2 linked regions of the Homo sapiens genome follow. The protein of the gene in region 2 purifies or fractionates together with the protein of the main gene of each other region. This does not show direct contact. Each region holds a gene or a part of one and is shown on either strand. Other genes may lie near its edges.

Region 1 (3,814 bases), on a different chromosome or scaffold from region 2:
CGCCACCGTACTCCAGCCTGGGAGACAAAGCGAGACTCCTTAAAAAAAAAAAATCAGGATAAACCGTTAACACCATATGTGGAGGAGCAAGGGATACGACCAGTGACCAGGACCAACCAGGCCAGGGTGCAGGCGTCTGTGAAGAGGCCATCTCCACGCTGGAGACACCTGCCTCCCGGAGGGGACTGAGGCCTTACCCCCTCCTCAGCAACACCTGAGCCAGAACCTGCTCTATTCCCTTTTTGGAGCTGAGGAAACTGAAGCACACAGACACCCGGCTGGGCCCCATACTCCACTGCTGCTCCTTCGGACACGCTGGCCTCAGGATGTGTCCCAGCTTGCGGCGTCTCACACCTCTGTCCCAGTCATCTGAGGACCCCCACGGGCACCCACCTGCGAGGTGAGGAAGCGCTTGAGTGCATTCCCTGGCTGCAGGTCCATGCCTCGCACCACGGCCCCCACAATGTAGGGCCGCACATCCCGGACCTCGGGGCTCACTCTGACTGTCAGAGGTACGGGGTTTTCAGAGACGTGCAGGACCCTGAGCAGCAGCCGGCCGGCATCTCCCACGTCCTGCTCCTCCCCATCACCACCTTCCCGCCTCTGCTTCCTCTCCCTCCTCTTCCTCCGGCTCTCTTCCTTCTCCGAGCCCTCGGCACGGCCCTTGCCCTTCCCGCCACCACGGCCTCCGACGCGCAGGTACTCCAGGATGGATCTGGTCTGGCAGCCGCTGACCATCTTCTCCAGGCGCTTGTCCCTCAGCTTGTTCCCACGGAAATTGATCTCCTTGAGCTTGGGGCAGTCCGCAAGCTCTGCAGGGATCTCGCTCAGCTGGTTGTTCGAGAGGTCCAACGTCTGCAAAGAGAAACATGGACGCGTCAGACGCCCGGACTCTGGGAAGAGAGTCCAAGGTCATGCTCGAGAGGCAGGGAGACCACTCATCACTCACAAGAGCCACCACTGGCCTGTCTGTGGGGACGCGTCCCTGGGGAGCCACAAGTCATTCACCTTTGAGTCACTTCCCCAGCTCTGCACCCCACATCAAAGGCACTATCCGAGGAGCCTCTCCGAGGAGAAGGCGTCAGCCACGGTTAACAGTGATCTCTGCAAAAGCTTCTGACTCAAACATGTCACCCTCTTTAACAACCACAGCAGCCCTGCAGCTCAATCATCACGTTAGAGAACAGAAAGGTGACAAGAGACAGGGGATGTCTGGGTGTGAAACGTGACCTCATGTCGGGACCTAGCCAGGACTGCTCAGGTGAGAAGCAGGTTCCCCAAAGTGGTGTTATTTTTTTTAATTAAATGAGCTAAAAAAAAAATACAGCAAAATCTCTAAGAGCATTCTTCTTCATAATGAAGTGCAAAGTTGCCCGCAGTGACACACAGAGTGCTCTCAGGGTTCACGCAGGAAGGAAAGGGGAAAGCCGACTTCAACGGCGATGGGTTCTCAGCCTTCGTCTGACCCAGGACAGGTGCATCGGGCCCACCACCGTGTGCCACAAAGATGCCCAGGAAGCCCCGTGGCCCACGGGAAAGCGTTTTCTATGACCGTGACTGATCAGACTTTGGCAAAACGTGCAGGTGACCTCACTGAAAGGATGGAAGGGGTACAGTGGCACCTGATGCACTCTTAGGATGTCTTTCCCAGGGTCTGGGCAGCGCAGGGAACGTGCGTGTGAGGGCAGCCACTTCCATGACGTGAGGCGGCCGCTGCAGGTTCAGGCAAAAGGGGCCCATCCGCCTCCACTCTGCTCTTTCCTGGCTTGGTACCCAGGCCCCACAGCCTTGCCTGGGTGGTGGGGCAGGCACTGCGAGCAAACCCTTCTGTCCCAGCTTCCTCTAGGGCTGGAGGAAGACCCTGCTCAGGATGCAAAGCCTGACCCTCGGGGATCTCTGGCAGCCTCGGTGCCGGCTCTGCCCCCAGAGAGGAGGCAACAGCATGTGGGCCCCCTGGAAGCCAGCACTCGCCCTTGGTCAGTGTGGCTGGTGAGTCCTAGTTACACTGGGTGTGGAGGAGACAGGTAGGGCTGGACTTGATAGACTCTGAACAGAGTTGGGGATGGGCTGATTACTCAGAGGACACCTCCTGCTTCGCCTGGAATGGATGGCAGGGGTGATGGAATTTCTCAAGCCCCAAGTTGTGAAGGAAATGAAAAAAGGAACCTGCTGGAATCCTCCGGCTCAAGCAATCAAGCTGCTCAGACACGGGTAAGGGCAGCATGGCTCAGAAATGGGATGGCGCTCAGAAGCGGGAAGGGTGGCACGGCTCAGACATGGGAGGGTGCACTGGATGAGTTCCCTCAGGGAGAACAGAGACCCAGGGAGGAAGCGACAACTTAACAGTCAAGCAGGAACAGCATGTGTAAAAGAAATAAAAGGGCTCGCGTGCCCTCTGGGAGAGAATGGGGCAGTCTAAGCAGCAGTGACGCCTGCTGGGGAAGAACACAAGGCAGGGGCTGAGACCAAGCCCAGCTGCTGGGCACTACCTGAGCCACGCGTCCATCGGATCTAACAGAACTGCCACAATTCTGTGCTTCTCAGCACAGGGTGGGCTGGGCTGGGATAGACTTGTTGGACTGGTGGCTCCAGCCCAGACCTCCCTTCCGGCCCCACATGGGACGAGAGCCAATCTACTCCTGGAATCCAGGTGGCCTCACAAAGTACCAGGAGCCGTATCACCAATGCTGTCGCCAGCCTGCAGCACCAGGAACAGTGCGGCCGTGAGCTCAGCCTTCTAGAGCTCCTCACCTCCCTGTCAGAGCCCTGGCTCCAGCGTTAGAACCAGCCTGGGCCACCAGCCCAGGGCACAGCCTGCCTGGCAGAGGCCAAGGGAAGCTCTGAGGTTGGAAGCTCGGGGGCACAGGCATCTGAGGTTCTGCTCTGTGGGTTTCTGCGCTGCCCTAAGGGGCTTTGGTCAAAAAGCTTGAGAGTTCCCCTCAAGTGGAACCTCCTTTCTGCCTGCAAACACGCAGTGCGGCGTCTCCCTCCGCTGACAAAGAGCAAGTTCCTTCAGACCCAGGAGCAGCAGCAGAGGCGAAGGAGGCGGGCGGGGCCCCACCGGGGCGCCCAGAGCAGCCACAGCCAGTTCAGCCTGCAGCCTGCAGTGAGTCCCCGAAAGGATGATGGCGGGCACTCGGAGAAGGGTCTTCCTTCCAGGCAAAGACTGTCAGAGAAAGGGCATCTGAGCAGCTCAGGACCTGCCTGGAGGCTCTGTGGGGAGTCAGGGGACAGGAAGGGAAGCGGGGGAAGGAGAGCAAGAGGGAGGGCAAGAGAGTCACCATCTGGGTGGGGCGCAAAGCCGCACATGTTGGGGAGTCCTTGTCAGAAATGCAAGGCCCTGCTGACGAGGTCGCACGCTGGCCCCTCAGGCCAGCACTGGGCACCCAGTGGCGGCCTCAGCAGGAAATGAAGCCAGAGATTTCACACATGAAGGGTGGATGAGGGTGGCGTCAGTTTTCACTTGTGTGAGGGAGCAAGCAGGCGCGCCCGCAAGGATGTGAGGTGCACACTGGCTTTGGGGAGGATGAGTTACACAGGGGGTGGCTAGGGGTCCTCCTGACACCTGATGGGATGAAATGCCGTCACCTGTCACCCGGAGCTGACACTCTACTGCAGGAAACACAACCCTCGCAGTGGCTAAGCTGACGGCAGCAACGTGGGTCCTGACTCTGGCCTGGCATACCGGCTGCCTTCCGGGCCCATGGCTTTTGCAGGGGACCTGCTGCCGGGGAAGGATCCTAACTTCATGGTGGTGACAGGCTGACATAAACCAACCCAATAAGGAGCGCCAGCCCCTGAGTGAGCCCCACTC
Region 2 (2,565 bases):
ACCCTGTAGTCCACCTTGGAGACCTTGTAGGGGAGCTTACCCATCCTGCGTGACTGTGACTGTGTCCAGCCAGCTGAAAGTGCTCGGCACGGCCCTGTTCCACAGGGTGATCTTCTCCGTTGTCACCTCCACCTGGAAGTCCATCTGAGCATTGGCGATGCCCAGTTTTCCAAAGTAAGTCTTTCTGGTCTTGGAGTCAGGGCTGCCTCTCTTGTCGCCAGTGATCTGCCCATTAACTGTGAGGCCTGCCAGAGGGATGGGGCAGGGAGAGAGACCAGCGAGAACTTCTGAGTCCAGATTGCCTTTAGGGGTGTGCCTTCCTCTTCAACCAGACTGGCTGAGGGGCAGCAGAGCGGGGGCCACAAGAGAGACCAGGACTTCAGAGCCCAAGCCTGTTGGTTCCTAGACACTCTAGGTTTGGGTCATGCTGGGACCTTATGGGTCTGCCACTTGCCTGGGCCAGGGAGTGTTGTTCAGAGAAAAGCTATTCCCCAGACACAGGCTGGGTCCTACCCTAGGCCCAGGTGGTCCATTCACGCTAATCATCTCCCAATAGCACTGGCATGTGGGGCTGAGCAAGCCTGTGGCCCTGGGCACTCCCCACCCCCAGGGGTTTCTTTGCATGTGAAGATGATGCCTTACTGGGCAGAGTGAGAACCTGTTCCCTGTGCCTACCTCGGGGGACCCAAGCCCTCCCAGGAAGAGCCCCCTGGCCCCGGCCCTAGCCCACAAGCCTCACCTGTGACTGCATCCTGAATAAGGCGCAGCACTGTGCCTGGGGCTTCATCGATGTTGAAGCAGAGGGCATCGTCTTTCTCCGGAATTTGGATGATGAAGTGGGGATCCCCGTCCACTGGTGACACATTAGAGAAGGAGCTGACTCCCGGGGCCTCTCATCATACCTGGGGCCTCCCCCAGCCTTCTGGCCTCCATGGGCTCGACTCCGAGACAGGCAGGAGCACGTGCCCAGGCCCCTGAGCCTTCCCGAGGAGCAGCCAGGGACTCACCATAGTAGTAGGGGTTTTGAGGAGGCTGGTAGCTGGCTGCAGATACAAAGGGAGAGAGGGCTGAGCTAAGCAAGTGGCCCTGGGAGGCGCCCGACGACCCCCATAGGAGTTCAGCTTATGCCCCTCCCCTCCCCTTCCCGCTCGCTAATGCCATTGCCCTCCCACCCCGCAATCTCCTCAGGGCACATTGTCCATCTGCCCATCCCGGAGAGCTGAGTGAGTAGCCACGGTGGAGGGACATGTGGCAGGGGCAGGCTCTAAGCAGTGGGAGGAGTGGCAGCTGCCAGCATGTACTCACTCAGGTAGGACATGGCGGGGCTCACCGGTGTGGCTGAAAAGCCGAAGGGCAGTGGTGAGCAGGGTCTAGGGGTTCCTTCTCCCCCAGCCCCGTGCCTTCCTCCTGTCTTAGCGCTGCTGGGCCCCAGAGGGGCCCCAACACTGGCAGATAGAGGTGGAGATGTGACTACAAAGATTAGGCTTTGGAAATCGGGCACGTCCAGGGAAGCCCTTTATGGGGCTGGTGGCAATGGGATGTGATTTTAACGTTGGCGCAGGGCTTTTTGATGTGGCTGAAATGCAAGCCATTAAGTCATCTTCTCTCTCTTGAGTAATGCTCACAGCAAACATCTGCCCCACCCCTGGGCTTCCCACCCCCTAGTTGGGGTGAGTGAGGCTCACGGCTGTCTGTTGCTTCTTGATAGTAAACACCCACCCACACGTGCACACAGGCGCACACATATGCGTGCACATGCATATATGTACTCACATGCACCGGTACATTTATCAGGGCTGTTCTGAGGGGAATGTGATGGCCCAGTCCAAATGTGCCAGTCCAAATGGAGGTGGGGCAGGCCAGTAGGGGCTGGGGAGGCCCTGCCTAGTGGCAGGGAGTTTGTGAGGTTCCAGTTTTGTGGTGAGAGAGGCACAGAGGACTGTGATCCCCAGCAATTCCCAGCATGGGCATTGGGGCCAGACTGCCTTGGCCTAAGTACCAGCTTGGCCATCTGCTGAGTCTGTGAGCAAACAGACTGAGCAAATTAACCCCCCGTGCCTCAATTTCCCCATTGTAAAATGGGGATCATAAAAGGGCCCTCTTGGAGGGTTGCTATGGGACTAATGAAGTATAAATGACTGACATGCTAAATTGCTCATTTTTGCAGGTCATAGATACTGTCATACTGATTGTGTCTCCCTGGGCAAGGGAAGCCACCCCCAATTAACTCACAGGGATCCTCAGGCTCAGAGAGGGGCACGTTCATGATTTGGCAATAGGGCTGGGCCTGAGCCCAGGTGTCCCAAGTGTGCCCCCATGGCTGGGGGTCCTATCTTGCTTGGAAAGGCCTCCTCAGTTCTCTCTTGTCTCCCTTCCATAATGCCCAACCCGGTGGCTGGCTAAAGGCTTACCTTCTGCATCTGCAGGTGCAGCAAGGGAGGAAGAAGAGAAATGCATTAGAAGCCATAGGGCACTTGTGAGCAGGGACCAGAGCTGGCTGCTTGGCCGACCAGCCCTAGGCTGTGGGCCTCCCAGCAGCCAGCTCTTCCCCCACTGGGTGTCCCC

What was found.
Region 1: the proteins of ITIH3 (region 2) and LRRC47 purify together in Homo sapiens (affinity purification with mass spectrometry; one large-scale study listed by BioGRID and IntAct). This does not show direct contact.

What each region holds. Positions count from the first base shown.
Region 1 is NC_000001.11:3,786,456-3,790,269, forward strand, and holds part of LRRC47 (leucine-rich repeat-containing protein 47), read right to left. Parts: intron 856-3,814; coding exon 394-855; intron 1-393.
Region 2 is NC_000003.12:52,804,581-52,807,145, reverse strand, and holds part of ITIH3 (inter-alpha-trypsin inhibitor heavy chain H3 isoform 4 preproprotein), read right to left. Parts: intron 2,421-2,565; coding exon 2,412-2,420; intron 1,885-2,411; coding exon of another isoform or gene 1,774-1,884; intron 1,339-1,773; coding exon 1,306-1,338; intron 1,044-1,305; coding exon 1,008-1,043; intron 854-1,007; coding exon 740-853; intron 246-739; coding exon 41-245; intron 1-40. UniProt on the Homo sapiens protein: May act as a carrier of hyaluronan in serum or as a binding protein between hyaluronan and other matrix protein, including those on cell surfaces in tissues to regulate the localization, synthesis and degradation of hyaluronan which are essential to cells undergoing biological processes.